Regions from separate parts of the Homo sapiens genome. Here all the other regions are linked to region 1. The links come from fine-mapping of genetic effects on gene expression. A gene starts in region 1. Each other region holds a variant in brackets. All regions are shown on one strand. Distances are from middle to middle.

Region 1 (8,104 bases):
CACGATCAAGTTGTGGGCTGGGGATGCCATCAGCTAAAGGCTCAATTTGGTGAGTATCCTTTCTAAGCTCATGTATGTGTGGGTAGTCCTTAGGTACTCACTGGCAGCTGGTAAGAGATGTTAGTTCCTCGCCATGTCTGTAATGGACTGAATAGTATATTGCCCCAAAATTCATGTTTGCACAGAAGCTCAGAATGTGACCTTATTTGGAAATAGGGTCTTTGCAGATGTAATTAAGATGAGATCGTGCTGGATGATGTTGGGCCCTAAATCCAACGACTGTTTTATTAAGAGGAGAGGACACAGAGAGACACACAGGGAAGGCCATGTGAAGACAGAGGAAGAGCCTGGAGTGATACAGCCAAAGAATGCCAAGGACTGTCTGGAGCCACCAGAAGGAAGGAGTCTTCCCTGTAGCCTTCAGAGGGAACATGGCTTTGTTGACACTTTTTTTTTTTTTTTTTTGAGACAGTCTCACACTGTCGCCCAGGCTGGAGTGCAGTGGCGTGATCTTGACTCACTGCAAGCTGTGCCTCTCGGGTTCACGCCATTCTCCTGCCTCAGCCTCCTGAGTCGCTGGGACTACAGGAGTCCGCCACCCGACCTGGCTATTTTTCTGTATTTTTAGTAGAGATGGGGGGTTTCACCGTGTTAGCTGAGACGGTCTAGATCTCCTGACCTCATGATCTGCCCAACTCGGCCTCCCAAAGTGCTGGGATTACAGGCATGAGCCACCGTGCCCCACCACTTTTTTTTTTGAGATAGAGTCTCGATCTGTTGCCCAGACTGGAGTTCACAGGTGCGGTCTCCGTTCACTGCAACCTCTCTGCCTCCCGGGTTCAGGTGATTCTCCTGGCTCAGCCTCCAGAGTAGCTGGGATTACAGGTGCCTGCCACCACCACTGGCTAATTTTTTTATTTTTATTTTTAGTAGAGACAGGGTTTCACCATGTTGGCCAGGCTGGTCTCGAACTCCTGACCTCAAGTGATCTGCCCGCTTTGGCCTCCCAAAGTGCTGGGAGTACAGGAGTGAGCCACAGTACTCGGCCTCTGCTGACACATTCATTACAGACTTCTAGCATCTGGAGCTGTGAGGATAAACTTCTGTTGTTTTAAGCCACCCAATTTGTGATACTTTGTTACAGCAGCCTTAGGAACCAAGTGAGCTGGCTTCCCTAAGAGCAGATAAGTAAAAGAGTCAGAGAGGGCCCCAATGGAAGCCAGAGTTTTTCTGCTACCTAATCTTGAACATGACATCTGTTCACTGAAAGCAAACCACTTGATCCAGACCACATGCAGGGCGAGAGGACTACATAAGATCATAAATACCAAGATGTGAGCATCACTGGAGGCTGTGAACCAGGGCTGCCACACCAGCAAAAAACAGAGGAATTTCATTGGAAGAAACCGCTTTCTTCAGGGTTCTGCCTTCTCCATTCATTGATTCCTTCGACAAATAAATTTATTAAGTACCTACAATGGACTGGGTATTAGGGACATATGACCAATAAGACAAATAAGATTCTTTCCCTTGTTGAGATTATTTAGTTACAGGATAATAGGAACATCTGATTTAGATTAGGAAAGGAGGGTATGGGCAAGGCATGCCTTTCTGAAAAAACATTATCAAGAATTGGCCAGGTGTGGTGGCTCACGCCTGTAATCCCAGCACTCTAGGAGGCTGACGTGGGCGGATCACCTAAGGTCAGGAGTTCGAGACCAGCCTGGCCAACATGGTGAAACCCTGTCTCTACTAAAAATACAAAAATTAGCCGGGCGTGGTGGCGGGTGCCTGTAATCCCAGCAACTCGGGAGGCTGAGGCAGAAGAATCACTTGAACTCAGGAGGCGGCGGTTGCAGTGAGCCGAGATCGCACCACTGCACTCCAGCCTGGGGGACACAGTGAGCCTCCGCCTCAAAGAAGAATAAAGTTGAAGAATGAGTAGAAACCAGGCTGTGTGTGTATGTGTGTGTGTTATGAGGGAAGCATGAGTTTCTAGGTAGTGGGAAAGCACGTGCAAATAAGTCGGTAAGTTGAACAGCTAGACTAAAAGCTGCTTGAGAGCAGGGACCTTGTCTCTTCATTGCTGCATCTCTATTATACGACATCATCTCTGCATCTCTATTACAAGACATAGAGCCTGGCAGAGAGAAATTCTTACTGGATGAAATGAATGAATAAATCCAAGGCATCTTCTATAGGTTAGTGCAAAAATGACTGCAGTTTTTGCCATTATTTTTAAATGGCAAAAACCACAATTACTTTTGCACGAATATTTCCTGTTACAGATGTCAACTGAAGTCATTTAAAAATTTTCTCCCAAAGTTCATCGCGGGATCATTGCTCTTATTCATATTAGGTAGCATAGGCAAAGCTGCTAGAACAAAAGACTCAAAGTAAGTAAACGGTCAACACAAGTTTATTTATTCTCACATAACAATACTGAGTGGATATTTAGGTCAGTAAGGCACAGTTCTCCTCCACTTAGGAATCTCCCATCTTCAGGCCTTGCCTTCTCCAGAGCCTGGTCACCATCTGCTTCCAGTTGGCAGAAGGAGTAACAGCACAGGGGAGCACCTGTTGGAGGTCTGTATGGGCCAGGCCTGGAAACTGCACACCTCTTCTGGTCACTTTCCGCTGGGGAGAGCATAGGCACAGAGCCACACTTAAATTTTACTTTGAGGAATGCAGTGTAGGTGTATGTCCGACAAAGAAAACAATAATTCGGTAGACAAATAAGTCTCCACTCCAATATTCAATTACTTACTTAACTTATGCTCTGGTATGTCTCAAATTAACCTAGATAGAAATGAACTCTGAATCTTCCACTTCCATCAAGTTTTTCACTCACTCAATGGCATCATTATCCATCCAGTTGCTTAAGCATACATTTGAAAGTTATCCTTGGTCTGTTTCTTATCCTTCCCTTCCACATCTAATCCTTCAGGAAGTCCTGACAATGTTACCTCCAAAATATGTCTTAAATCCATCTTCTCAGCCAGGCACGGTGGCTCACGCCTGTAATCCCAGTACTTTGGGAGGCCAAGGGAGGTGAATCACTTGAACTCAGGGGTTGGAGAGCAGCCGGGGCAATGTGGAGAGACCCAATCTCTACAAAAAAAATACGAAAAATTAGCCAGGCATGGTGGCATGCGCCTATAGTCCCAGCTACTCAGGATGCTGAGGTGGGAGGATCGCCTGAGCCCAGGAGGTCTAGGTTGCAGTGAGCTGTGATCACGCCACTGCACTCTAGACAGTGGGACCGTTTAAAAAAAAAAATCCATCTTCTCTACACCTTTACCGCCACCTCCTTAGTTCAGACAGTGTAATAATCTCTCATCTGCATTATTCTCCAATAGCCTCCTAATAGCTCTGTTTCCATTCTTGCTTTCCTATATTCTATTCTCTACAAAGCAGAGTGATCTTTTAAAACAAATTTGTTCACATCACTCTTTACTTTAAAACCTTACAATAGCTTAGAATAAAATCCAAAGTCCTGATTATGACCCCCAAAGGCCACATATGATGCAGCCCCTGCCCACATCTCCAACCTCATCCTTTTTATACTTTTTTTTTTCTTTTTTTGAAATAGAGACGGGGTTTCGCCATGTTGGCCAGGCCGGTCTCGAACTCCTGACTTCAAGTGATCCGCCCGCCTTGGCCTCCCGAAGTGCTGGGATTACAGGCGTGACCCACCGCGCCCAGCCTCCAACCTCACCCTTTATCAGTCTCCTCCTACTCGATCTACTCCAGCTACAATGACCTTCTTGCTGATTCTTGAACATATTTAGCTTATTTCCACCTTAAAATTTCTACCCATCTGCCCAGAAATCTTTCCTTGGATTTCCAATAGCCAGCCCTTTCTCATTCCTCAGGGGTCTCAGCTTAAATGTTACCTCCTGAGATTCCTTCCTTAATCATCTAATACGAAGAAGTCCCCACATCCAGTTATTCTCTTACCTCAGCATCCTGTTTATGTTCTTCTTAGCATCAGACTCGGGCTTTTTCCTGTTTATTACCTACTTCGTTTTCCTGAAAGATCCATGTGCCGGTACCATGTGTTGTTCCTACTGTTTCTCCAATGTCTAGTAGATTTGGCACATACTGATGTGCAATTAATACGTGAATGAAGAACCATTGACAGACGATTAGTCAAAAGCTCTTGCAAAGCCCTTTGATAGGTTATCGGTGGAGAGTAGGGAGCACAAACCTGGGGTCCCATTCTAGCTTGACCACTTCTCGGCTGTGCACAAACTAGTCTAGCTCTCCTGAGCCTCAGTTACCTATTTTGCAAATTAGGGATGGGAACATCCATACCTCACGACGCCAAACGGCTACCTTGTAAAGACGAAAGGAGGAAATGCAGGAAATAACTCCACGTAAGGTTAATGCTCCGTAAACAGAGCTGCTACTGCTATTATATATTCTATACAATCCTGCGCCCTTAACGGCAGGACCCTTTCAGTGCTTCAGTCCTGTCTTCTCTCTCCTGGGTTGACCTCCACAGATCCTCTCAGAAGAGCGTTTTCCAGGCGTGAATCTCCGCAGAGTGGAGATAAAGGCTGAGGCCCCAACGCACGCGCACTCACGCGAGTCCGGGCCTATGACGTCATTAGCGCAGCGCCATCGCCGCGGAAGGCCCAGGGGCCTGTCCTGTATGCGGCGTGTCTTAGGGAGGCCCAGGCGGACGCCTGCAAGTCGGGTGCGCGGTTCGGGGGCGGCTCGGAAACCCCAGCGGAAGGCAGCAAGGGGCGCGTGGGGCCGTGGAGTCACGAAGCTGGGCGGCAGGAGGGGCGGCCTGGAGCTCCCGCGGGGCACAGCGCGTGCGTGAGGGCGGCCGGCGGGGCTGCCCGGCGCGGGTGTCCCGGCGATGTGTGGCGCTGAGGCGGCGGCGGGAGCAGCGGCGCCGAGCTCTGCTTCGGCTTCGGCTTCGGCTTCGCGGCGGTGCAGGCGGCGGAGGCGGAGGCGCAGGCTCTTCTTTAGGACCTGGCGAGCCCAGGTCTAAGCGGCGGCCCCGCGAGGCCCTTGCACGGCGCCCCGGGTCGAGGCCCTCCCCGCCTCGCCCTACCCCAGGAGCCTGCCTCCCCAGCTGGGGATGAGGCTAGGAGGCGGCCGCGTGGGGCCCAGCACAAAGACCTGTCCCCAGGGGCCGCCGCCTCCGCCGCTGCTGCTGCCGCCAGCCTAGAGCCGCCCGCCGAAGCAGAGCCGGCGCCGGGGTCCTCATCCCCACCGGTCCCGAGGGGCGGCTGCTGCCCGTCGCCACGAGGCCCAGGGGCCCGAGTGCCGAGCCCTTTGCTCCCTCGGCCGCGCGGGGACAGGGCTGCTGAGCAGCCTCCGCCTCTCCCGGCTGTGGGGGCCCCACTGAGTATGTCGGAGGAGAGCGACATGGACAAAGCCATCAAGGTAAGGGGGAGGTGCCCCCTCTTCCCCCGCGTTGTCCTGTGGCGTTCTTCTCGGCTCTAGCCTCAAAAAGCAGGGAGATTTTGCAGTGAGAGGTTCCATCGACTACCGGGTTTCGGCCTCCCCCGGATTCCGTGGATCGCGCTTTACAGCCCTGGGGCCAAGGGTTATGGGTGTGGGTGTAGGTGTGTGTCCGACTCCCGCCAGCTTCCCTGGTGAGTGTGATTTGTGCTCAGCTGGAACAGAGGTGAGTGGCCTGGAGACACTATTAAGTGTCAATGAATGGGACGAAGAGAGCCCTACTACTACTACTACACGTTTCGATCACTCCCCAAGGCCGCCAGCATTTGCTTCCGGATGGTCTACAGAACTTGGAGAGTTGGAATTTATCCATCCCTCCCGATTTGTTTGAAATCAGCCTTCTGGAAATCTGCAGTTGGAAAAAGGTGGTTCGCCGTACAAAACCTGTCCTTTGGGGAATAGGTTGTCCTCACTTTTCCGTGTATTCTCCCCTTTTTCTTTTTCCTCTTCTTTCTCCTAGGAAGCATTGAGTTTACTTAGGAAAAGTTAACAGTTCCTGTGACTTAACTGCACTTAAACCAAAAGAAAAGCAAATGTGTGTTCGAAAATTACACAAATAAAATAAGTTTTCTAAAACCTGTTTTTAACTTTTTTTTTTTTTAAAGGCACATTTTGCCCACTCAGGGCCAGTTATCTGTCTTGACAGCTGTAGCTAAGAAATTAGTCTTATGAAAATTAAACATTGACGCTTAAAGTTTGATGTATTATTTACTTATTTGTAGTGTTAAGTCAGCCCAGTGCATTGAATAATTTCATTTTATCTTGAAGGACAGGCATCTATTGGCAGCTTGGGGTTATTTTCCCCTTCAAGACAGTTACTAGTAATGATTAAGAATTTACATTTCTACCAATTCTTTAGGTGGTGTATATAGTTTCTCAAAATCATCAAGTCATTCCAAAGAAACTTAACCCTTTAAAGGAGGCATCAACATATAACATATACATTAAGGAAGACCAGGTTTTTTGTCTGTTTGTTTGTTTTTGAGACGGAGTCTCACTCTGTCGCCCAGGCTGGAGTGCAGTGGCCCGATCTTGGCTCACTGCAAGTTCCGCCTCCTGGGTTCACGCCATTCTCCTGCCTCAGCCTCCCGAGTAGCTGGGATTACAGGCGCCCACCCACCACGCCCTGCTAATTTTTTCTTTTGTTTGTATTTTTAGTAGAGACGGGGTTTCACCGTAATAGCCAGGATGGGCTCGATCTCCTGACCTCGTGATCTGCCCGCCTTGGCCTCCCAAAATGGTGGGATTACAGGCGTGAGCCACCGTGCCTGGCCCAAGGAAGACGAGGTTTTAAATCATAAAGATTCTAAAAGACTGCCTTGACATATCCTTCTTTTGTTTTGGGTTTTGTTTTTTTTTTTGAGTCGGAGTCTGGCTTTGTCATCCAGGCTGGAGTGCAGTGGGATGCTCTTGGCTCACTGCAACCTCCACCTCCCAGGTTCAAGTGATTCTCCTGCCTCAGCCTCCCCAGTAGCTGGGACTACAGGCACGTGCCACCACACCCAGCTAATTTTTTTGTATTTTTAGTAGAGGTGGGGTTTCACTGTGTTAGCCAGGATGGTCTCCATCTCCTGACGTCATGATTTGCCCGCCTCGGCCTCCCAAAGTTCTGAGATAACAGGTGTGAGCCACCGCGCCCAGCCTTGGTTTGGGTTTTATTGGCACAGAGGCATGATATGCCGCCTGAAGTTATTTAATTGGGTTGTGAATCAAAGCGTATGTGGCCAGTTTTTAAACATTGTCTCCTGTGTGCCAGATGGTGTCCTAGACACAAATGGTACAAGCCAGACTCCTAGATGTCCCTACTGTCATGTAGCTTATATTCTAGAGGGTGGGGTTACTGCTAGGTGGTTTTAATTAAGTGTGGAAAGGGTGAGGAGTACTGTGTTAAATAGGGTAGTCCGAGGAGGTGACACTGTAGAGTTCTGATGGAAATGCGAGAGCAAGCCACCACTGTCTCAGGGAAGAGTATAACAGGCAGTGGGAATAGCAAGGACAGACCTTGAGGTAGAAGCAGGTGTAGTGTGATGTAGGAAGAGCAAGGTGGCTGGAATGCAGTGGGTCAGTGGAGATGATGTAGAGCAGCAATGGGAAGCAAGGCACTTAGGGCCTTGTAGGCCATCGTAAGAACTTTGGGTTTGACCCTGATTAAAAGGGGAACTATAGGAGAGTTTTGAACAGAAGAGAGACATAGTTCCAGGAGATAAGTATACAAATAGGGCAGCAATGTCACTTAGTGGTTGTTATAGCTTCTCTAGGTAGACTCAGTTGAAATCTCACCCTATGTTTTTTTTTGATACAGAGTCTCACTCTGTCACCCAGGCTGGAGTGCAGTGGTGTGATCTCGGCTCACTGCAGCCGCCTCCTCCCAGGTTCAAGCAATTCTTGTGCCTTGGCCCTCCGAGTAGCTGGGACTACAGGCGCACACCACCACGCCCGGCTATTTTTGTTGTTATTGCTATTTTGTTGTTATTGTTGTTATATTGCTAGAAAAGATGGGGTTTCACCATGTTGGCCAGGCTGGTCTCGAACTCCTGACCTCAGGTTATCTGTCCGCCTTGGCCTCCCAAAGTGTTGGGACTACAGGCATGAGCTACCACGCCCAGCCCAGCGTTTCTATTTT
Region 2 (8,104 bases), 370 kb after region 1:
TGTTGGCTAGGCTAGTCTCAAGCTCCTGACCTCAAGTGATCCACCTGCCTCGGCCTCCCAAAGTGCTGGGATTACAGGCATGAGCCACCACATCTGGCCTAAAGATGTAAATTTTTCAAGGTAAATTTCAAAGCATTAATGGAACCTAATATCATCTGTATCTCTCTCTAGACAGATACCAAAGTTTATATCTATACAGTGATTGATGATATTAATATTTTATCAGAGACTCTCAGGCTTGATCTGTATATTATTTCACCAGTTTTTCCTGCATAGGAAGCTTCTCAAATACAAGGATGGGCATGCAACCTCAGAATCACATAGTCATGGCTTTCAAACAGGAGTCTCTTTTCAAAAGAAAGCTTTGGCCTTGTCCTCTCTCACTCTGCCCCCTTCCCGAAAAGTCCTAGCTGTGTCCTAGGAGAGAGCTTTGCAAAATGGAGGAGGAAACCACTGATCCAGTTTAATACACTCATTTTACAGATAGGGAAATTGAGGCTGAGAGAATCAGTGAGATGATGTGATCAAAATGACAAAACTTTTTTCTTTTTTTTTTCCTTTGGAGACAGGGACTCACTCTGTTGCCCAGGCTGGAGAACACTGACGCCATCACAGCTCACTGCAGCCTTGACCTCCCAGGCTGAAACGATCCTCCCACCTTAGCCTCCCACATAGCTGGGACTACAGATATGCCCACCATGACTAGCTAATTTTTTGTAGAGACAGGGTCTCGCCATGTTGCCCAGGCTGGTCTCGAACTCCTGGGCTCAGGTAATCCTCCTTCCTCGGCCTCCCAAAGTGCTGGGATTACAGGTGTGAGCCCCACGCCCAGCCTATTTCTTTGATTTGTGTCTGTATGACCATCATGGCAATGACAGATCATCCATTCATCAAGGACAATGGGGACTTTTCCCTGGGAACTTGGGTAGATATAATGCAGGAACAGTTTGAACATGTCGGACAGAAAATAATGGTAGAGGTGGTGTGGTCTGAAGGCGGCCACAGCTTTGAGACTGGAGAGCCTACCATCTACTGCCAGCCCTGATCTGAGTCCCTGAGGAAAGCTCAGGCAAGTCAATTGGCATTAGAGCATTTTTGCTTTGTGTCTTCGTCCCTGATTTGAAGAGAAACTCATCTGTATAATCACTTTTTAAGGTACCTGGGAATCTGGGTATGACAGCCTCAGTATATATAAAATAGCTTATTAATCAGAATGGCTGTTCACTCACTGAATCAACATCTAAGACGACTCCATGAAGCCCAAAGGTTTTCAGCATCCCTCGGATGGCAAATTTTGGCAGAGCAGTTCCAACAGCACTGCTGGCTACATTATTGCTGTCTGGAGAGCGGGTTACTACTGTGAGACCTGAGGAGTGTAGAGGGAGAAGTTTTTCAGGAAAAAGTACCACTGCATCTGGGTTCTTACATTTAGCATCTAAAATAGCTCTCCAGATAAACATAAAATAATAAAATAAAATAAAATAAAATAGCTCTACGGGCTTTAACAGAACCCTCAGTTTTGTTATAACCAAGCAAGAACACAACTCAGTCTGGAAGGTAATATAATAGAACGTTGTAAAAGCTCTTACAATTGAAGAATAAAAAGACAAATAAGCCAGTTTAAAATGGGCAAAGAATTTTTTGTTTGTTTTTTGAGACAGAGCCTTGCTCTGTGGCCCAGGCTGGAGTGCAGTGGTGTGATCTCGGCTCACTGCAACCTCCGCCTCCCAGGTTCAAGTGATTCTCCTGCCTCAGCCTCTAGAGTAGCTGGGATTACAGGCGTGCGCCACCAGGCCCAGCTATTTTCTATGTTTTTAGTAGAGATGGAGCCCAGGCCCTACCTCTTTTCTTGTGCAGCTGCCTGCCCCACTCAGCTCATGCTACTGAGTTCTGGGAAGTGGGAAGGGCCCCACCAGGGTTGCCCTAGGGCTTCACATGGGGCGGTGTGGAAGAGGTTAGCCCAGTCGGAGTAAGGAGAGTCACCCTAGGAGAACCACCAGCTGCTTGTGCACATTAAGGAAAATTCAACCTCTCATTTCATAGGAAATTTCATAGGTCGAGTAAGGAGGAAAGCAAAACCTTTTCGAACTTTATCAATTGTGAACTTGTTTGCTTCGTCTTTAATGTCTTCAATGGTGGGAAGATAAAGGTCTCTTGGGATGCCACCATTCTCTTCGTAGAGAAATTCAACCGTCTGTCGGGCAATATCCACCATACCTAAAAAATATAACAGCACAGGGTAACTCCCCAAAGAGTACACACAGATCAACCATGACACTGACTTACATGTAGAGTGAAATGATAAGGGAATCTTTCAAACATTGTTTATGAAAGTACATAACCCTTTGGCGAAGGAAATTGTGCAGTATCTACCATGTTTGGAATACTAAATGTACTACTTTTAGGAATGTCTCAAATCTCTTCCACAGAAATATAAGCACTAAGGCCAGGCACAGTGGCTCACACCTGTAATCCCAGCACGTTGGGAGGCTGAGGCAGGTAGATTACTTGAGGCCAGGAGTTCAAGACCAGCCTGACCAACATGGTGAAACCCCGTCTCTACTAAAAATACAAAAATTAGCCAGGCATGGTGGCAGGCGCCTGTAAACCCAGCTACTCGGGAGGTTGAGGCAGGAGAATTGCTTGAACCCAGGAGACAGAGGTTGCAGTGAGCCAAGCTGGCGCCACTGCACTCCAGCCTCAATGACAGGGAAAGACTCCATCTCAAAAAAAAAAAAAAAAAAAATGGCCAGGCGTAGTGGCTCACGCCTATAATCCCAACACTTTGGGAGGCCGAGGTGGGTGGATCACCTGAGGTCAGGAGTTTGAGACCAGCCTGGCCAACATGGCAAAACCCCGTCTCTATTAAAAATACAAATTAGCTGGGCATGGTAGCAGGTGCCTGTAATCCCAGCCACTCGGGAGGCTGAGGCAGGAGAACTGTTTGAACCCGGGAGGTGGAGGTTGCAGTGAGCTGAGATTGCACCATTGCACTCTAGCCTGGGAGACAGAGCAAGTAGCACTGTTGGTAGATAGCAAAAAAGTAGAAAAAACCGAAGTGTTCATCAGTACAAAATGACTAAAAATGGTCCATTATTTTGCAGTTATTTCATTTTCGTTAACTCAAAATAACAAATTACAGGACAAATGGAGAGGAAGAAGAAAGTGAGGGTAACGTTTCTTTTTCTTTTTCTTTTTTTTTTGAGACAGAGTCTTGCTCTGCCGCCCAGGCTGGAGTGCAGTGGTGCAATCTCGGCTCACTGCAACTTCCATCTCCCAGCTCAAGTGATTCTCATGCTTCAGCCTCTCAAGTAGTTGGGATTACAGGCGCGCACTACCACACTCGGCTAATATTTTTGTATTTTTAGTAGAGATGGGGGTTCACCATGTTGCCTAGGCTGGTCTCAAAACTCCTGACCTCAAGTGATCCGCCTGCCTTGGCCTTCCAAAGTGCTGAGATTACAGGTGTGAGCCACCGTGCCTGGCCAGGTTTATTTCTCTCTATATTTTTGTACTGTTTGATTTTTACTGCAATAAACACATGTTGCTTGTTTAAGAAAGAGAGAAGGCTATATGAGCTTCTTCTATCCACTTATTGAGATTGCTCTTTCTTCCCAGAGAAAGAACATACGATTATGTTTGATAGCAACAGCTACTATTAATTAATAAACCAAGTAATTAAATGTCCAAAGACCTGGGAGGAAAAGCATTATGGGAGGAAAGCAAAATGGGCACAATTCCTCCATATCCTGTTGTTGCCTTAGGCCCCACAGTGCCCAGGACGTTGTGGGTGAAAGGGCAGGTGTTGGTCAGGGGCAGTGGCTCACACCTGTAATCCCAGCACTTTGGAGGCCCGGGTGGGAAGACTGTTTGAAGCCAGGAGTTCAAGACCACCCTGAGGGATATAGCAACACCCTGTCACTACAAAAAATAAAAAAATTAGCCAGGCTTGGTAGTGAGTGCCTGTAGTCCCAGGTACTCGGGAAGCTGAAGCAGGAGGATCTCTTGAGCCCAAGAGTTTGAGGCTGCAATGAGCTATGATTGCACCACTGTACTCCAGCCCAGTTAATATAGAGCGAGACTCTCTCAAAAAAATAATAAAAAAAGTGGGTGTTGATAGAATCTG[CT/C]TTTTTTTTTTTTTTTTTTTTGAGACGGAGTCTGGCTCTGTTGCCCAGGCTGGAGTGCAGTGGCGTGATCTCTGATCACTGCAAGCTCTGCCTCCCGGGTTCCTGCCATTCTCCTGCCTCAGCCTTCCGAGTAACTGGGACTACAGGTGCCTGCCACCATGCCTGGCTAATTTTTTGTATTTTTAGTAGAGACGGGGTTTCACCGTGTTAGCCAGGATGGTCTCAATCTCCTGACCTCATGATCCGCCTGCCTTGGCTTCCCAAAGTCCTGGGATTACAGGCGTGAGCCACTATGCCTGGCCTAGAATCTGCTTTTTTTACACAAGGCCTAACTCCATCCCACCTATCTACCATTCTTTTATTCACTGGTCTTACTGTAAGGAAAAAGCATGGCAATTTTCTGAGCAGAGTTTAAAAGGGTGCTGTGATTAGAGACAGACGCTTTTGGAATTAAGTGTTAGAATAAACAAGAAATTGTGGCCTAAGATTAGAAGATTAGGGAACAATAATCTTTGCAATGTTTTCAAAAGGAACAGTGGGTATGAGAAAAAAAATACTGTTTGTTTATGTATATGTGTGTGTGTGTATGTATGTATGTATGTATGTATGTATGTATGTATGTATTTGAGACAGACTCTTGTTCTATCTTGCCCAGGCTGGAGTGCAGTGGCACAATCTCGGCTCACTGCCGCTTCTGCCTCCTGGGTTCAAGCGATTCTCCTGTCTCAGCCACCGGAGTAGCTTGGACTACAGGCGTGTGCCACCACACCCAGCTAATTTTGCATTTTTAGTAGAGATGGGGTTTCGCCATGTTGGCCAGGCTGCTCTCGAACTCCTGACCTCAGGTGATCCACCCACCTCAGCCTCCTAAAGTGCTGGGATTACAGGCGTGAGCACCATGGCCGGCCAAAAATACTGTTTAATAAGCAGGAATCAGGGAACAGTGAGAGACTGCCAAATCAACCTTGCAGAGCACATATTCCATTTTAAAGATGGGGAAAGCCCAGAGATGTTAAGTAATTTTCTCAAGTCCACACAGCTGGTAAACAGTATGACTTCAGATGTGAACTGTTAACCACCAGACCACAGAGTTTCCCAGTATAACCACTCCAGCTTCACTGCAGCAGCCCATCAACCCAAAATATTCAGCTAAATTGACAAGCAAATCAAAGTCCAGCAATGAAAACAAAAGATCAGAGTTCACTAAAGGTAAGGTCAAAGACACTGTTAAGTATGGTGCAACATTAGATGAGTCTCTCCTGATTTACATTCTGATTTTCATCCAGCTCCTCACTTCAAGTCATGAAGTAACCTCCTTAGCAGAACAAAAAGTACCAGACCTAGTTGTAAGGCCCCCTTTATCTGGTCCAGGCCCGATTTCCGCTCTGCTTCATTGCGGAAGCGTCTTCGGATGGTAGGAAAAACCTTGGTCTCCCATGCTTTCACCAGCAGGGCGTAGTGGTCCTCCTGGAAGCAGAAGGAACCTCATGAACAGAGAAGGAATATCTGGTGCAGGCATCACTGTTTCCCTAACTTACAGCCCTCACCCTGAGGTCTTCACCCCACTTAAATGCCAGTAATAGAAAGATCAGACATAGACCCCTGTACTAGATACACCCCCAGATGCCAGGGCAGGGAACAGCAACACTAGGGCAAGCTCTTCGTTTCCCTCTAAAGAAGCCATAGAAGCACTTTCACAGGATTCTGAACTATTGCAAAGCACTTCACTTCTCCAGTTTCTGGATCTTCACCGGGCAAAATGGCCCAACGGATATCGCTATTGATAGGGGTTTAGAAAAATTAACACTCTAAGGTCACTGTTCAAGCACAATGATGTCACTGAGAGTAACAAAACCAGCTTTGCACTCTCACATCAAAATCACTCCTCCAGGCTTGTCCTAGTCACTAGGGAGCTAAGCAAATGCTGCTGAGTCCTGATCTAAGCCTGTGGGTCTCTTACCTGAGGGATGTCATCATCGTCATCATCATCGCTTTCATCATCTGCAATGGGAGGCGGGTGAGGGTCTGGGCCAGAGGTGATGAAATTCTCATAGCTGAGCTCGACTTTATAATGACAGGAGGTGTCACTATCATATTCTGTAACAGAGCACAAGGACAGCGAATTCTAAACAAGAGCAGGCTAGAAAAATCCTTAACTTCTCACCCTTAGACAAACCAGATTATCTTAATTTGCATGATAGGAAGACTCCTAGTACACTGAGGAATGTTAAATCACAGAGTCTAGGAATAACTAATTATCTATAATTACCCTGAATCCTAAAATAGTTTTTATGAGTATAATTCATTCAATTCAGAGAAGACTTTAGAAAGTCCTTCACTATAGATAGAACTAAACAGGCTTTTTTTTTTTTTTTTTTTTTTTTTTGAGACAGAAGCTCACTCTGTTGCCTAGGCTGGCAAGCAGTGGTGCAAAGATAGGTCACTGCAGCTAAACCTCCTGGGCTCCAGCGATCCTCCCACCTCAACCTCCTGAGTGGCTGGGACTACAGGTGTGTGCCACCACACCTGGCTATTTTTTAAATTTTTTTGTAGAGACAGGGTCTCACTGTGTTGCCTAGGTTGGTCTCAAACTCCTGGGCTCAAGCTATCCTCCTTCCTTGACTTCCCAGTGTTGGGATTATAGATGTGAGCCACAGTGTCTGGCCCTAAACAGAATCTTAAAACAGTTTGCAAACTAGTATCCAATGGGCCAAATATGGCCTGCAGACATCCTTACTTTGGTGAGCTGTTTTATTTAATTTTATGAAAAAATTGTTACAAGTAATCATAAAAGTTTTTTTTTTTTTTTTGAGATGGAGTTTCGCTCTTATTGCCCAGGCTGGAGTGCAATGGCACGATCTCAACTCACTGCAACCTCCACCTCCCGGTTCAAGCAATTCTTCTGCCTCAGCCTCCTGAGTAGTTGGGGATTACAGGCACACGCCACCACCCCCAGCTAATTTTGTATTTTTAGTAGAGACGGGGTTTCTCCATGCTGGTCAGGCTGGTCTCGAACTCCCAACCTTAGGTGATCTGCCCACCTCGGCCTCCCAAAGTGCTGGCATTACAGGCATGAGCCACCTCACCTGACCATCATAAAAGTTTTTAGTGCACGCCTATATATCCATTGCCTAGCATTTTATTATTCTGTGATTACCTTGGTTTTAGGACAATTTTTGAAAATGAGTAACACTGTGACATGAGGAGACTTCATACAAAGTCCTGGGGCTCTAGTGGTCTTGCACTGGCTGCCCTAAGGCATAGCAGGCTTCCTGGAAATGGGGATGAACTTTCTGGTCTGCTGTGCTTCATCCTGCTCCCCACCTTCTTTCACCAGGCCTGTGACCCCATTACCAATGGGCACGTGAGTTTGCAACTCCTGATTGTAATGAGGATGCTCAAGTGCAATGGGTTTATGGAATTCATAACATTCATGGTCTCAGGAAGCCATGGAGGCAGTAAGTTCCAGGAGGTGACTTACGTTGCTGAGCGGTGGCCACGGCAGCAATCCGGCATGGTGGCCCATGAGTGCCTGGGTCTGATGCAATACTGGTGCCAGCATCATTGTCACTGTCAGATGCCATGGCGAAAGGCAGGGCCTCAAAGTTAGCGCTGATCTCTTCTGCTAGGTCAGTGCACAGGTCAGCAGCATTGCGGTGGGCCTGCCCTTCCGCGTAGGCAAACGGCCGGGAGCCAAAGTTAGCTCGGGTTTTGGTGTTCTGGAAAGGAGACCAAATGAAGGATTTGGAAAGACTTACGTTTATTTTTATTTCTGCAAGAGCCCAAGGCGCAGCTCACTAAACGTCACCTTGGAAGAATAGCCCGAGGTGTGTGCTGGCATGAGAAACCAGGTGGGGGCTGGAGGGACTGAGCACACCTGTGCTCAGAGCCCTGTACAGCCAGCCCTGCCTCCCTGTCCCTCACCTCACACTCTCATGTACTTTGCTGCTCAAACACATTGACCTCTCTTGTTTCCA
Region 3 (8,104 bases), 500 kb after region 1:
GTGCCGAATTTGACAAATTTTATATATAATTATTAGGTACCAGAAGGATGCTGATAGACTGCATGCTCAAGGGTGGGGATTTACATTAATTCATCTTTATACCTTCTGCATTCAAACCTCAATGTGTCTTGAATAGTTTCTCCTGAAATGAGGCACAAAACACAATACCTGGCACAAGGTAAGCACTCAATAACATTTACTAATATTATTTTTAAAAATCTTTTTCGAATTAACTCTAAACTCTTGTCAGTATAGCTTATAGCTTTGTCTGTTTTGCTCACCAATGTATCACAAGTGCCAGAGAACTTGGCACATAATAGATGCTAGACAAATATTTACTGAATGAGCAGCAGATTAAAAATGCTACCTGTCAGTGCACATACATTAAAAATGCCACCTGCTAGGGAACATACATGCTCCCCCAAACAAGACAAACAAGCTACAGAAGGAGCAACAGACACAATAAGGCACCACTTCCAAATGCACTCCCAGGTCAGCACTTCTGTTTGAGACTTCTGACCCTTCACCTTTTTTAAGATCAGAGGCATTAACCTGTGCCTCTAAACCTGTGGTTTGTAACTGTTTGGCTGAATGTGAATATGCACCCAGTGACTACTCAATAAAAATTCCCAATAACTATGGCTGACCACTAAGTCCCTCTAAGAAACATAAGAAAGGTTACCTATTTTATGCCACTGAATCTTGCCCTTCCTGTCAATTCCTGCTCACAGCTGTGCCTGACTAATTAAAACTCCCTGGAAACCTCGTCTATCGCTTTACGGGTTATTTCTTCTGCTACATCAAAAGACTCCACTTTAGAATTCAAATCCATCTGTCTCCCTCAGTCTGCAAAGAACAAATGTTCAGAAAAACTAACCGACTAGCTAAAATTAAATGTACCTTTCCCAGCTAAGACTTAATATGTGTTGGGGGCAGGGAGCAAGCAATCTAAGGATAAACCACTAAAAAGAAGATAAAACAAAGCTTAACCATATGAGATAGTACTTAGATAGTCATTCAACTCCCATCTTAGCAGACCAGGGACAAATCCAGAAATTCTTGGTTGAAATGGATTTATATCCAAAGGCAAAATTTTCTGGTGAAGCTAATATATGACAAACATTGCTCACCCAAAATAATATGACTCTAGACCCCAAAGGTTTGCTCATCCATTTTCCTCTCATTTGGACCTCAGAGAGCCTAAATTGGCTCATAACCTATAGCTTCACTTTTTGATATATGAAATGATTTATTGTTGAAGGCTAACTATTGCCATCTGACATTAAGTACAATAAAATCTCTCACAAAAGGATTTATTGTTGAACTATTGGTCCTATCCCATGATCAGAAAAACACTAAAGGCCGGGCATGGTGGCTCACACCTGTAATCCTAACACCTTGGGAGGCCAAGGCAAGAGGATTGCTTGAGCCTGGGAGTTCAAAACCAGCCCGATCAACACAGGAAGACCCTGTTTTCAACAAAAAAATTAAAAATTAGCCAGTTGTGATAGTGCATGCCTGTAGTCCTACAGGCTCAGGAGGCTGAGGTGGGAGGATCGCTTGAGCCTAAGAGTTTGAGGCTGCAGTGAGCAATGACCGTACCACTGCACTCCAGCCTGGGTGACAGAGTAAGACCCTGTCTATTTAAAAACAAACAAACAAACAAAAAACAATAAGAAATGTAATCTAGTTTTTATGACCTTTCTTTGGAACCTATAACTTCAAACTTCTAAGAATTGTTTCAATTATTGAAGTAAAATATATAAAATTGCCTGATCTTAATGCTGCTTTTACTATCGCATCTGAGTTACAGTTTTGCCTAGAAGTAATTACAGGATGAATACACGAAAATATTCTAGAACACTGAAAAAAACTCTAGTGCAAAATGGATTTTAAGCAAGAAGTTGCCTCTGTGAGATCTGATTAAATTTTTGCTGCCAAAACCACGTATGCCAAATTATGCCATGTCATACCTATCTTCTGTGATGTCACAAGACATCTAAAGTTCAACTTCTCTTTCCAATATGCTTTTTCACCAAAGAAATCCTTTCCCTAGTAAGCAATGTAACAGTTAAAATGAAGCATAAATCACAACCAAAAAATTTTACTTCTTAGAAAGTTCCTTCAAAAACACTGTAATTTATTACACTGATGCACATGTAATTTACAACACTCTGTAACACTCAGAGGTTACTAGTAAAATGAAACAAGTTTCCTTCTTTTATGTTCAAAATCATATAACTGTACAATTTTAGAATTTCACAAAAACTCCTAAAGCTACAGCAAAATCACCTCCAAAGACATGTCAAATCTTTTTTTATTACACTGGAAATCTGCTGTACCAAATATAACAGAAAATAAATGTACAACCACTTAGGCTTAAACATATTTTTGTTACATAAATATGTTGTAAAAGGTTTAACCTGCATCCTTGATGTCCCACAGCACATAGGTAGCATTCTTTCAAAACTATCCTTCAAATTATTTGACATTCTATTTCTTTGAACACTATTTCTAAATAAATTAATTAAACAGCAGGTTCCAAATGCAATTCAACAAGCTTTATGTATGACATGGCTTCTGATGTACAAAGCAGTAATATGCACTGCAAGGATTAAAAAACATTTGAAGGTACAAAAATATTGAACACTGTTTGTATTAGAGAAAAAACTGAGGCTGTGCATGGTGGCTCAGGTCTGTAATCCCAGCACTTGGGGAGACCAGGGAGGGAGGATCACTTGAGGTGAGGAATTTGAGACTAGCCTGGGCAACACGGCAAGACCTCACCTCTACAAAAAAAAATTAAAATTAGCTGGGCATGATGGTACAAGCCTGTAGTCTTAGCTACATGAAAGGCTGAAGTGGGAGGATTTCTTGAGGCCAGGAGTTCAAGGCTCCAGTGAGCTATGATCACGCCACTATACTGCAGCCTGGGCAACAGACAGAGAGACCCCATCTCTTGGGAAAAAAAAAAGTGAAATCAACCTAAAATATTTACCAACAGGAGAAGGGCTAAATCACCTGTGAGGAAGTTAAAAAATAAAGAGGCTGAGTGATATACATGTGAATAAAGCTGAGGCCAGATATTGAGTGAAAAAAACAAGTTGCAAAAATATGCATATAACAACATTGATGTTTTTAAAAAGACAATACTGTATGAATAGCTCCGATGGGTAGCATCTTCAGGTTTTGTGACTGAACAAGCTAAGAGTTGAGATGAACTTGCCTGGAGGACGCCAACTATGGCAGGGAGGAAAATGGAATGGGTTTTGAATAGGGCTTAATGTGAATCCTAAATCTCTCTCCACAAGGCTTCCTAAGGCAAGTCTGTAGATCATTTAACAACTTTTAGTAATAAATTTTGATTTCCACTCATTTAAAACTGTAAGGGACAACTTTTAGAATTTTAACTCCAAGTATTTCCAACCCTTAATGGCTTTAAGGAGAAAAATCAACAACAACTACAGAAATATCCTAGAATGTCCTGTTTTAGCAAAACACTAAAACTGAAAACCAAAAACTGCAGGGGGGTTATAACTGGTCCTCTGGTTTCTGTAACAATTCAGATGAGTGTTATGCATAAAGAACATGACCTGGTAAACCGCCACACTATAAGAAACTAAACAAGCCATCCAACACTTCTGTTCAAAATACAAACTCCAAAACTAGCTTAACTCAGAGCTCACAAAAAGGTCAACAGGGCAGAGGCACATAAGTATGAATACAGAAGAGGATAGACTGGGGGGAAGATGGCAGTAGGTCTCTGGACTGTCTTGAGTTTTTCCTATCACATATAAAATGTTTGGATTAAGAAAAAAATCAGGGCCAGATGTGGTAGCTCACACCTGTAATCCCAGCACTTTGGGAGCCTGAGGCAGGTGGATCACATGAGGTCAGGAGTTCAAGACCAGCCTGACCAACATGGTGAAACC[C/T]CGTCTCTATTAAAAATATAAAATAAGCCAGGCGTGGTGGCGCATGCCTGTAATCCCAGCTATTTGGGAGGCTGAGGCAGGAGGACTGCTTGAACCTGGGAGATACAGGTTGCAGTGAGCTGAGATCACGCCATTGCACTCCAGCCTGGGCAATGAGAATGAAACTCCGTCTCAAAAAAAGAAAAGAGAAGAGAAGAGAAGAGAGAAGAGAAGATAAAAGATAAGATCAGGCTGGGTACAGAGGTGCATGCCTGTCCCAGCACTTTGGGAGGCCAAGGCAAGAGGATCACATGAGCCCAGGAGTTCAAGACCAGCCTGACTAGTATAGTAAGACTCCATCTTTTAAAAATTGCCAAAAATAGTAGGGTGTGATGGCATGTACCTGTGGTCCCAGCTACTCAGGAGGCTGAGGCAAGAGGATTACTTGAGCCTAGGAGGTTGAGGCTGCAGTAAGCCATGATGGCCCTGCTGCACACTCCAACCTGGGTGACAGAGCAAGACCCTATCCCCTACCAAAAAAAGAAAAAAAAAAAGTGTGATGGAAGAACAAGGTCAGAAGAAGAAAAAAGAAGAAAAAAACCAGGACAATGAAACGATATGAAAACAATAAACAAGACTCTAACTCCTGTCTACAAAAACAAACAAAACCAACCAACCAAACAAGCAAACCTTAATAGTATAAGAAACACAAAAGTAAATACCAGAATAAGCAATTAGAGGAAAATTAGTTTACAAGAGAAAATTAACTATATATTAATTATATTATGGCATTTGTTACAGAGCCTGGAAGTAAATTCATGAAATAATGAGGTTCGAGTAATTTATCTTTTCTTCCTTTTGCTTTTTCAAATTTTGTCAGGTGAGTATGTATGGCTTTTGTAAGATGCTATTTTAGAAAGAACAGGAAGTAGCTGGCCAGGCCGGTGGCTCACGAGGTCAGGAGATCAAGACCATCCTGGCTAACACAGTGAAACCCCGTCTCTACTAAAAATACAAAAAATTAGCCGGGCATGGTGGCGGGCACCTGTAGTCCCAGCTACTCGGGAGGCTGAGGCAGGAGAATGGCGTGAACCCGGGAGGCAGAGCTTGCAGTGAGCAGAGATCGTGCCACTGCACTCCAGCCTGGGCGATAGAGCGAGACTCCGTCTCAAAAACAAAATAAAGAAAGAAAGAAGAGAAAGCAAACATGGATCTTTCCTGAATGTTCTGGAGCTATGGCTCAAGAACTCACAGGAAGTCTGGTAGTTAGGAGAAACATTTACCAAATGTTTATGATGTGCTGGAATAAGAAGCTTCCATTCGCTATAGTCCTTAACCTGGAAAACCACAGCATGAGGTAGCTAAGGAGTGCGACTGCCCCATTTCACAGGTGAGAAAACTGCGGGTTTAGAAGGTTAACCCATTGGCCAAGGTTACCTCACTTGTAATTGGTGTACTAGAATTAAAAGGCAGTCTCTAAACTCAGAGCCCACTTTGTGAACCACATTACCTGTGTTTCTCACACACACCTGATAAGAATCACCTTGAGCACTGGTGAAAAAATCATATTCCCCCTATGCCTTCTGCCAGAGATCCTGGGAATCTGCATGTTTAACAGGCATCCCAGAAATTCTTTTCTCTCTCTCCTTTTGTTTCCTTTTCTTTCCCTCCCCTCAGATCACTTTGGTACATACCAGCAATTCTTACCAGGTGCAGCTTGAGAAACTCTGCCCACCCTCGACTGCCACTCAAACTTTTTATTTAGGATGAAGCCTATTACTACATATAAACTGGCTCTCATTGCAAGATGAGCTATTTAAATGCCAGATACTGCACTCCAAGACAAGCACAAACAAAACCTAGACCATCTATAGTTGAAGCTACTCTTGGCTTTCCAGAGAGAGAGAGAAATTGTCACTTTATAACATAAATCAGGAAAGATTTTTGTGTTGAGGCTGCCATAGTTCTTGAATTTCTCCAGCCCCGACAGTTGCTCTGAGAGTCATATTTTCCCCAGCCAGAACTCAGTGGTGGGGAAAGGAGCAGGGCAATATGTTGAGTGACCACTCTATTTGATTGCTCTCCTTTTTTAAAATACGAGAAAAGGAGACAGAATTTCACATTCCTAAATCAGAGCTTTCCTAGCTCTTAATTATCAATTATTATCAATTATTTGGATTAGTATTTCATATATCCATATATACTGGAAATGTTGGTGCCCAAGGCAAATTGGAGAATTCATGTCCCTCCTAAAGGTATTCAAAGTATTTTTGAAAACCTCTGCACATCAAACAAAATCTGTGGGTTGAATCTGGCCTTCTAACTACAGTTTGCAATTCCTCTGGCCTCGACTTTTCATGTTTCTTTTTTCATAAATATATACATTTATCATATAAAATATATATTTATATATTTCAGGAAGGAGGAGCAAATGTTGAATAAAAAATATCTGATGATAAATGAGTTGGTGTCTGTCAAGCAGGCTCTTTGAAAAAGGAGACTCAGCCAGGCATGGTGGCTCATGTCTGTAATCCCAGGACTTTCGGAGGCCGAGGTGGGTGGATCACTTGAGGCCGGGAGTTCAAGACCAGCCTGGCCAACACGGCAAAAACCCATCTCTACAAAAATACAAAAATTAGCCGGGTGTGATGGAGCACGCTTGTAATCCCAGCTACTTGGGAAGCTGAGGCATAAGAATCGCTTGCAACCCGGGAGGCAGTGGTTGCAGTGAGCCAAGATTGCACCACTGCACTCCAGCCTGGGAGTCAGAGAGAGACCCTGTCTCAAAAACACAAAAAAGAAAGAAAAGAAAACAGAGACTCCCGGATTGGGAAGAACCTAGCAATTGAAATACAAAGCCAGGGAAACTTAAGGAATTTACTTGCACTTCAGTTACCTAATATTAACCATCAATATGCAAATATCATACGTCAGAACCCTAGTGGAGCTATGATTCACAACCTTTCTTCTATTCCAACATAGCTGAGAAAGACATCACACTCTGTGGTTTCCTAAAGCCAAGATGCTCAGGGCAGAAGGAGATGGGGGCCCCATGGCAGGTGGTAAGAACTGCTGATTTAGAACATAAGGACAGTATGTTAGCCCAAGCTGTGTTTGCTCTCATGCCAATTGCTTGCCAGATGAACTGTACACACATTCCATTTATATGGATGACGTGTAACAGGACAATATACAGAATTCCATGCTTGAGCTTTTTCAGGCTGTCACCTCATGGGCTCTGCCTCTATCTTTGCCCCAGTCTTGAGCAGAAATAGTTCGCTTCTGAGTCTGGATAGGCCATAGAGATCTACCATAAAATAGCAGAACACCATGAACTTTTATAATCTGAACATTTTAAAGACCAAGCATTCTAATTGCAGGTGGAAAAACTTAAAAAATTTTTAAATTTAATCAAATCGCTGCAGCACAGAGAAAAGTTATGGTTGATATTAAGAAATAAACTAGATTAACACAAGAGTAGTTCTACAAGGGAATGCATTAGGAGGAGCATATACTTTATCTGGGTAACCCTAGCATCTTTCTATTTTTATAAGCGACCTCTAAAGCAAGAGGTGAGAAACCTATCAATTTTATAGTTGAGAGAAATAAGCCTCACCAAACAGACTCTACTATGCCCTTGAAATAGGTTTTAGAATGCTCCTGAATGTTGTATCAAACAGAACTATAGATGGAAAACTTAAAACTTATATTCACTAAAATATTATGTGGAGCATAATCCTATTTTTATAAAAAATGTGGGCCGGGAGATCATGCCTGTAATCCCAGCACTTTAGAGGTCGAGGCAGATGAATCGCTTGAGGCCAAGAATTTGAGACCAGCCTAGCAACATAGCTAGACCCTGTCTCTATAAAAAAAAATTAAAAGATGAGCTGGACACAGTGGTGTGTGCGTATAGTCCCACCTCCTTGGGATTGCTTGAGCACAGGTATTCGAAGTTGCAGTGAGCTATGATCACACCACCGCAGTCTAGCTAGCTTGAGCAACAAAGTGAAACCCCCTATCTTTTGGGGAAAAAAAAGTGTATATTAGCAAGAAATGAAAAAATATATAAATAAATAAAAGTGCATGCATAGGTTTTATATATAAACCTATGTATGTATATATACTAAGCATTTATATATCTAGAGAGAGGAAGAGGAGGAGCAGGTTCAAAATCTTAACAGAGGAATTAT
Region 4 (8,104 bases), 390 kb before region 1:
TCAGCTGCTGGGGGTGGAGCTGGCTTGCAGGGGCCAGAGTCAGAGTGAAACCGGCAGCTCTGCTGGTTAATCTCAGCACTGACACTGGGGACTAGGCCTGGAGCGGAACTGAAAGGGAGACTAGGCCCGTTCCCCTCCAGGCCTGGCCTATATCCTCCCAGTGATCCTTAAGGCCTGCAGCTAGGGGGAAGGGTGGGGGCCAGGCAGGGCCAACTGGAAAAGTAGCAGAAGGAAGTGGCCACTCGCACCTTACCCATCTTGCAGACAGGAAATGAAGGCTCTGCAGGGCTGGCTGGCTGTAAAAATGGGCAAGAGCGCAGAGGCCCCACTCCCTGCACACTGCGCTGTGTCCAGTGCCCGTGTGGATGCCATGTGAGGCCTCACTCTGCCTGCCTCATCCTGGCTGCTGGACCTCTGGGAGTAGGAGGTGAAAATGCCCTGGCTGGTGCTGGTCACTTCAGGCTGGAATTTTCTAGTCATGCAGCTTTCTAGTGAGAGGCCGCAGTGAGCTGTGGCCAGTGTTGGTCATTCCTGCAGTCATTACTCTCCCCCAGCCTGTTGTGTCCGCCAACCAGAGCAGGCCCGGGAGCTCCCAGGAGACCTGCTGGAAGGGCCCAGGTGGCCATCCTGCTCCTGCCAGGCTGCCCTCTTACCTCACTGTTCATTGACTCTCCTGCAGGTGGGGAAGGGGGATAAAGGAGGTGGCCAGGCCACTGGGTCATGATCCTTCCGACAGAGGTACCTGGCAGCTCTGTGTGTAAAGCAAGGTTAAGCATCTGGTTTTGGGGGTCAATTCAACAGCACTAGCAGCTCCAGTCCAAGGTATGCCCTTTTGGGCTGAGGTGGAGGTCAGATCACCTGAAGCCACAGTTGCTAGAACATCCTTTGGGCTGCCTCTGCTTTCCATCCCCCTGCTCCCAGTTTGTTAGGGGTTGTAGTATTTTCCAGGAACACCTGAATGGAGGGGGCCCAGTGGGGCCACTTCTGTCCATTCCTTATCTCATCTCTTTCTCCCCTTTTCTTCTTTCGGCCATCTTTTCAGTCTTATCACAAGAGGAAGGGGAGGGGCAAACCCCCTCCTGAGCAGATTCCCAACCGGAAGCAGCTGGCTCCTTGGCTGCAGAGTGCCCCAGCACAGGAAGCATCTGCAGGGTCAGTTGAGACCTGGGAGCAGGTTTCCTGCTGGCAAAGGAACAGTGGCTAACTCCTATCCACCCTGCAGCCCTATGTGCCGGGTGTCCTGGGAAGGTCCAGGGCCAAGATTTTGTGGTTTTACAGTGGCTATAACTTAGGCTAGCCATGCTAGGCTCTGCCCCTTTGGGCTTGGTGTGATGAGACCGTCAGCAGCTGCTATCACCTGGCTGGGCAGGGAGCTGTTTGCTCACCAGTGGGAAGAGAAACGGATGTCAGACACATGGCAGAGTGGGAATGTCTCCAAGTCCAGGTCCAATGGGCTGGGAGGGCTGGCCTTCTGCCAGCACATGCTTCTTGGGATCTCAGTGTGAATGGTGTTCAGGAGGCTAGGGGAAGGCACCCTGGACCTCACTACAGGCTCAGAGCCTGCCCAGCAACACCATGGATACTCTCTCTAAAAGGGGGACTCCTGGGGAGACTATAGACAAACTCAGGCCTGGCTGGAAGAAAGAGCATCAGGAACAAGCCTTGAGTACCCCAACTTGGTCTCGTAGAGTTCAAGGCCCAAGCTACAAGCAGCTTGCTCCAGCATCCAGGAGGTCCGGTGGTGCACACGGCTTGAGATGCCTGACAACCTTTACACCTTTGTGCTGAAGGTGAGTGACAAGGCTTTTCACACCCTGGGGCAATACAAATACATACACATACAGCAGACCCAACCCTGTTCCCTTCCTCCCTGCCAGGTGAAGGACCGGACAGACATCATCTTTGAGGTGGGAGACGAGCAGCAGCTGAATTCATGGATGGCTGAGCTCTCGGAGTGCACAGGCCGAGGGTGAGGTCCTGGGCCCTCGTCCCTGGCACCACCTTTGCTGCTACCACCCCTGACCTGCCCAGATCCTTAACCTCAGCCTCTTCTCCAGCAGGCTGGAGAGCACAGAAGCAGAGATGCATATTCCCTCAGCCCTAGAGCCTAGCACGTCCAGCTCCCCAAGGGGCAGCACAGATTCCCTTAACCAAGGTGGGTAAACCAATAGCTAGGCCATTGTCTTCTGGGTACGCTGGAACCCAGACTCAGCCCAGGACATAAGGTAGCCCCCTGCGACCACCATCACCCATCTTATCTAACAGGTGCTTCTCCTGGGGGGCTGCTGGACCCGGCCTGCCAGAAGACGGACCATTTCCTGTCCTGCTACCCCTGGTTCCACGGCCCCATCTCCAGAGTGAAAGCAGCTCAGCTGGTTCAGCTGCAGGGCCCTGATGCTCATGGAGTGTTCCTGGTGCGGCAGAGCGAGACGCGGCGTGGGGAATACGTGCTCACTTTCAACTTTCAGGGGATAGCCAAGGTATGGGGTGGGGTGGGGTGGGGTGGGGCAGGCAGGACCGTGCCACCCCTCTCCACTGGAGTTCAGGGTCCTAGAGGGACAGCCCGAGCCCACCATCCTCTCCTCCCACAGCACCTGCGCCTGTCGCTGACAGAGCGGGGCCAGTGCCGTGTGCAGCACCTCCACTTTCCCTCGGTCGTGGACATGCTCCACCACTTCCAGCGCTCGCCCATCCCACTCGAGTGCGGCGCCGCCTGTGATGTCCGGCTCTCCAGCTACGTGGTAGTCGTCTCCCAACCACCAGGTCTGACCCTACTGCCCTTTGCTGAAGGGGGTGGCTGACACTGGGTAGAGGGTAGAGGCTTGCTGCAGACCCAGGGGTACAGGTATCTTGTTCTGTGTCCTGTCAGCACTTGCCTCAAGACTGATGGTGTGGTCTCTCTTGGTCACTTGTCCTAGGTTCCTGCAACACGGTCCTCTTCCCTTTCTCCCTTCCTCACTGGGATTCAGAGTCCCTTCCTCACTGGGGTTCAGAGTTGGGCCTTCCCCACCTTAGTTCTTCTGGCTGTCCCCGGGGGCTCAGCCCAGAGGGTCTCCCAGGGCGATCCTCACCCCCCGAGCAGATCTTCCACCTGGTGCCTTCGCCCGAAGAACTGGCCAACAGCCTGCAGCACCTGGAGCATGAGCCTGTGAATCGAGCCCGGGACTCGGACTACGAAATGGACTCATCCTCCCGGAGCCACCTGCGGGCCATAGACAATCAGTACACACCTCTCTGACCAGTGAGGAATTCCAGGCCTCAACAGCTGCCCTTGAGGAGCACAGGCAGAAGTGTGAACTTGTGAATGTAATTGATCTTTCCTTCCTTCCAGAGAAAGATTTAAGGGACACTGTTAACTGCTCGTGCCAGTTTGGAAGTGACCCTTCTATTAGGCCTGTTGAAGGGCCCTCCTGTAGGTTTCATCTATCCACCTGGCTTTCTCCTTATTGTTTACAGATGTAGTTCTTGTTAGAGGATGCCGCTAGCTCCTGCCC[G/A]GGGTCCCTATGCCCAGTCCCCGTTACTCTTAGAGAAAGGAGTTGGGGTGAGGGCCAGAGCTGGCAGTGGAAACTTGTTCTCTTTTTCACTGACACTGTCACAGCGGATGACAGACTTTCTACGGGGAGGAGGGGGGGATCATCAGGAAGCCCAGAACACTAACAAGCGGTTCTCCCATCTACCGTCAGTCCACATGGCAGGTCTGCTGTGTCCACACCACAGATGACCACATCTAATCCTGCTTCTACTCTCAGCTTTAGGACAAAAGCTCTGTCAGAGGCACAAGCTGAAGGTCAAAAATGATTTAAAACATTTTACCTCAGACTAATTTCTTTAAAGGATTCAGGTTCAAAACTTAACCACTGCTTATTTCAGTGCACTGTTTCAACTAACACCCATGCTATTTTTGTAGTCAGAAACAGCTATGCAAACCCTACCTAATTTACAGTCTGAGCCAGCATGCTGGCTTGTCTACTGCATCCTCGGGACAGTCACCTGCCACTGAGTGGCCACTGTCCTTCCTAAATGTCAAGAAGTGAAGTATGTCACCCTTTCAGGGAAATTCAGGCAATTACTGAAATAGGAGGGTGGCAAGAACAGTTCTATCCTGGTGCCTTACGAATAAAAAACTGGATTCTGGTTTACAGCAGCTTTACAGTGATAGTTAAATTAACTGGGGCTAGGGGAAGAGCAAGCAAAAAGGGAAGAAGGACTCCTAGGCCCTTTCTAGTAAATCCTTCAGCAACAAGGCTGGCTTGGTGCCCTCCAAGCATCTAATGGCTTATTAAATTATCCCACAAGTGGGTTTTAGGCTCCTTTTTTGAGCCAAAATGGAAGCTGGGAATCTGGTGCCATAACTAATGAGAAACTCCTTTAATAGCCCACAATCAGTGTTCTGTTCTAGCTGGCTACTGCTTCACTGGATTGAGAATCTATCTATCTCCTTGCACACATGGGCACACACAATCTCCACCATCCAGGGAGGTCCTGAAGTCAAATCTCTATCTATACAAGTGATACAATTCATAGGGGGCTGGCTCCTCCCAGAACCTGTCTGGAGGCTCAGAAACGGGGGCAGTGACAGTGGAGTCAGCTGCTCTTGGGTGCCAGCAGAGCCATTCAGTACAACCCCCAGGCTCACAGCAGTGGCTTCTAGGAAACTGGGAGTTTAGATCAGCTTTACAGATACATCGATCAGAGGCTAAAATGAAACCTCAGCCTAAAACTCATAGGACTGACTGCCTGGGAGGAGGGTTAGGTCTGCTTCTTCCACTTATACTTAGTCTCTGTGCTCCAAGAGGTCAAATTTTTGCTTCTAGAATTTCCTTGGGGTCTTTCAGAGGGTGGGGGAACAAACCCCTATGCACTTTTCTTTTTTTTTTTTTTGAGATGGAGTTTCTCTTGTCAACCGGGCTGGAGTGCAGTGGTGCAATCTTGGCTCACTGCAACCTCCACCTTCCTGGTTCAAGCGATTCTGCCTCGACCTCTCAAGTAGCTGGGATTACAAGCACCAGCCACCATGCCTGGCTAATTTTGTATTTTTAGTAGAGACAGGGTTTCACCATGTTGGCCAGGCTGGTCTCGAATGTCTGACCTCAGGTGATCCACCCGCCTTGGCCTCCCAAAGTGCTGGGATTACAGGCGCGAGCCACCGCGCCCAGCCTACACCACTTTTAGTACCAACACTCTTGGGTGATTTCATGGACCCTAAAGCAGACCTGACACTGATCCAGATTTGCAGTCCATTTTTAAGGACACCTGTCTTTATTTCCTCAAAGTCAAGCAGCTTTCTCTGGAAAATGAATGCTAATTAGTGTGAACCAAAAGAGTAAGTAAGAGTCTGAAGTTTTTTTAAAGGAGAAAGCTTATTATGGAAAGTCACTGGTCCTCCCCTCCGCACAGGAAAGGTACCCAGTAGATAATGAACCAAATTAAGTTCCCTCCCTCCAGCCAGAAGTTAAACATCTGGGATATGACGTCTTCATGCCAGGGGCACTCATTTCTTAGCAGCCTCTCTACATACATCTCTCAGGTGGTGCCAAGAGGCACACCAGGTAGAGCAAACTTAGCAGCTCTGACTAACAGGCTGCAAAGTGCAAGTTCAGATTCTGTGGCAGAGATTTGGAAGGCACCCACCTCCAGACTGCTTCCCGTCCAAGTTACCAGGACAGCTCAAAAACATGCTGACAGAAAACTCCCATGGCTCTAGGAAGAAGTGACACTAAGCCAACACCTTTCTTTATGTGGGAGCAGAATCAGCTGATGAAGGGGTGGGCAGCAGTGTGGGGCAGGCACCCCACTGGCTGCAGCTAGCCCACCATAGGCACAGCACATCCCACCACTCTCCTTCCAGTCCTGACCAGGCCCCAGCCGGCAACTTCTACCGAGAGCCATGGCTCAACACCAAACTGGACAGTAGACATCATGATCCCTCCAGTTAGCTCTAATTACAGACCCCACCAGTACAGCTTGACAGCTCCCGGCACCATCCCTTCCTTCATCTGACTTATTGAACTTTTACAAACTAACAGTCACCAGCACCAAAGAATTAAGTCAACTAACCTGCCTTGAATTTTAGACCAGCAATCCATATGGCTTTATCTGGTATAAATCTTCTGCCTTTGATCATTTCTGGACCGTAGGAAAAAGGAATAGCAATCATTAAAATCTTGGGCCAGAGAACACTATTTTTACATAACAGTTTCTTAACCTAAAGTCAAGGCCTTGGACTCTTCCCTGAGGGTTGCCTGAGATTCCTTCATGCTTTCTATTCAGGACTAAGTCCCTTACTGCAAATGTGTTAGCTCTAACATCTCCCACAAGCTAGAGGAACTTGCGAGTATATTAACAAGGACACATCTGACATCCTGTGTTTGGTTAGAATATACAGCACATTGTGATAACATAAAGTGGATTCATCTTGTATCATTATAGGCAGAAGGTATTTGGCAAATTTTTATGTATTGTTTTATGTACTGTACAAGTAACTTATTCTTGAATAATGCAAATTTTGCTATAATGTACAAATTGCTATATGTGAATTAAAAAGTTTTCAGAATCTTGATTTGCTGTCATAATATTTAAAGGCTCTATTAAGACCATGGTGTCTCTACAAAATCCTTGCCCTGCCCAAATACTCGCTCTTCCCTTTGTCCTCCCCGTTGCAATCTGGGAATACTAACAAATGCTTATGAGTCCATCCATGTCAATAAGCAGCTTTGTACATCTTTGTATCTTTTCAGCCTTCATGCCCTCTGGATTTCTTTATTGCAATTTTTTTCTGAGTGTCTCCTGCCCCCTACTGGTAAAGTAGAAAAATGCCCGAATTGGGAACTTCCAGCTAATGACACTCATTTTGGTTCAGGAGATATTAAAAAGGAAGCTTACAGAATCGGTGTCAGCCCGAGGATGTGGAATTTCAGTGCTGCCCAACTCTGGCCAACCTTCCTCCTCCTGAAGCAGATCTCTAATCCACCAAAGAGAATAGCTCAGTCTTGTCTTTTTCTAGAGATACCTTGAACCAGAACTAAGGGTGAAGAAGAAAAATCATTTCACAGCTACCTTCCGGGATATTCAAAATGCACCCTTAGCACACCTGCTTTGATATTAAGTATCCTACAAAGAAGTAGCTTATACAGACACACACTAACTTGATCAGTTTTTAAAACTTTTTTTATTTTTTAAATTTTTTTTAAGTTTTTATTTTATATTATCTACAAAGTAAAAGTTTTTCCCTTAACTTAAAAGTTGAACCACTGTAGACAGTGATCACCTCATCAAACTTGATTTATAAATAATAATCCGTCAGTTTGACGGTAAGAATTTACTGAAACTTTGTCAAGTTTAGTAAAAGGGCGTTCCAAGTCTTGATTTTTTTTTTTTTTTTTTTTTAGCAGTAATAGCAGCAAGAATCACTCTTGTTACTTCTTTTGCTAGCTGATGTGTTCATGACTTTCAAGGGTTATTAAAAAATAAATAACTTCCAGTTTCGGCAAGCAGAGCTGGGGTACCTGCGGGACTCTGAAACAGCATATGGAATTATGGAATAGCCCCCAAGTTCCTAAATGCCTCTACTCGGTCCAAGTATCTTCCACTGCAAGTGAACTGTTAGCATTCCTATTGGATGTTACAAGAAATCAACATATATATTTTAAAAACAAAATAAATGAAATTCTAGTTTTCTGTGCTTCCAGTTGGTAGAAGCAGTAGAAGGGAGGAGGGAATTTGGCCTTTCGGTTCCTCCAGGGCAGCCTTACAACTGCTGTTGGTGGTGGGCTTGTACTGTAAAAAGAAAAGCGAACATTGAAACAGAAAACTGGCAACACCACACATCAGCCTAGTGTCTCTGCAGCACATGATTGTAAACTATCCTCGTGCTAGCTGAACAAAACTCAAAATTGAATTCGCTTTTCCCCCTCCCATCTGCACCAAAGTGGGGAGGGTTGGGTGGGTGGGTAGAAACAAACCAGTCAGACGTAAAACCACTTCAGATAAAACTCCCAGAAGACTTGTTCATGGGGTAGAAAAAAAGGCCTTAACAAACCCCCTCCCCAAATATTAGCCAAGCACCAGTATTGCTTTCAGAATAACAGGTCAGACTGTGAAGTAT

Alleles and levels. Positions count from the first base shown, and alleles are read on the strand shown. Sizes are in standard deviations (SD) of each study's normalised expression. Not every link is listed here.
With allele C in place of CT in region 2, the expression in fetal neocortex of the gene that starts at base 4,862 in region 1 is lower (large effect, 1.0 SD a copy in Walker 2019).

Evidence for each region. PIP is the estimated chance that this variant, and not a neighbour inherited with it, causes the effect.
Region 2: its variant is fine-mapped to the expression of MAPKAPK5 in fetal neocortex (Walker 2019, PIP 0.95).
Region 3: its variant is fine-mapped to the expression of MAPKAPK5 in whole blood (TOPMed, PIP 0.93).
Region 4: its variant is fine-mapped to the expression of MAPKAPK5 in whole blood (TOPMed, PIP 0.99).

What each region holds. Positions count from the first base shown.
Region 1 is chr12:111,837,367-111,845,470 of GRCh38, forward strand. MAPKAPK5 (MAPK activated protein kinase 5) reads left to right here and starts at 4,862. Exons shown (of 14, transcript NM_003668.4): 1 at 4,862-5,403. The coding sequence starts at 5,368. MAPKAPK5-AS1 (MAPKAPK5 antisense RNA 1) reads right to left here and starts at 5,639. Exons shown (of 2, transcript NR_015404.2): 1 at 3,961-5,639; 2 at 2,401-3,111. RefSeq lists enhancers at 4,438-4,717, 5,448-5,547 and silencers at 4,748-4,927, 5,008-5,357, 7,039-7,207.
Region 2 is chr12:112,202,407-112,210,510 of GRCh38, forward strand. It overlaps HECTD4 (HECT domain E3 ubiquitin protein ligase 4), which reads right to left. Exons shown (of 76, transcript NM_001388303.1): 50 at 7,609-7,846; 51 at 6,088-6,224; 52 at 5,468-5,594; 53 at 2,080-2,217; 54 at 1,230-1,366. Among named protein-coding and RNA genes, the nearest start is that of MIR6861, 43 kb to the left of the region's middle. The variant CT/C (reference allele first, on the strand shown) is at 4,127.
Region 3 is chr12:112,340,814-112,348,917 of GRCh38, forward strand. The region is part of intron 1 of HECTD4 (HECT domain E3 ubiquitin protein ligase 4); the gene reads right to left. Among named protein-coding and RNA genes, the nearest start is that of HECTD4, 38 kb to the right of the region's middle. The variant C/T (reference allele first, on the strand shown) is at 3,933.
Region 4 is chr12:111,445,065-111,453,168 of GRCh38, forward strand. SH2B3 (SH2B adaptor protein 3) reads left to right here. Exons shown (of 8, transcript NM_005475.3): 3 at 1,689-1,790; 4 at 1,878-1,969; 5 at 2,061-2,155; 6 at 2,266-2,480; 7 at 2,592-2,763; 8 at 2,919-6,559. The coding sequence ends at 3,238. ATXN2 (ataxin 2) reads right to left here. Exons shown (of 25, transcript NM_001372574.1): 25 at 7,150-7,776. The coding sequence ends at 7,748. Among named protein-coding and RNA genes, the nearest start is that of SH2B3, 43 kb to the left of the region's middle. RefSeq lists enhancers at 71-340, 3,461-3,530. The variant G/A (reference allele first, on the strand shown) is at 3,495.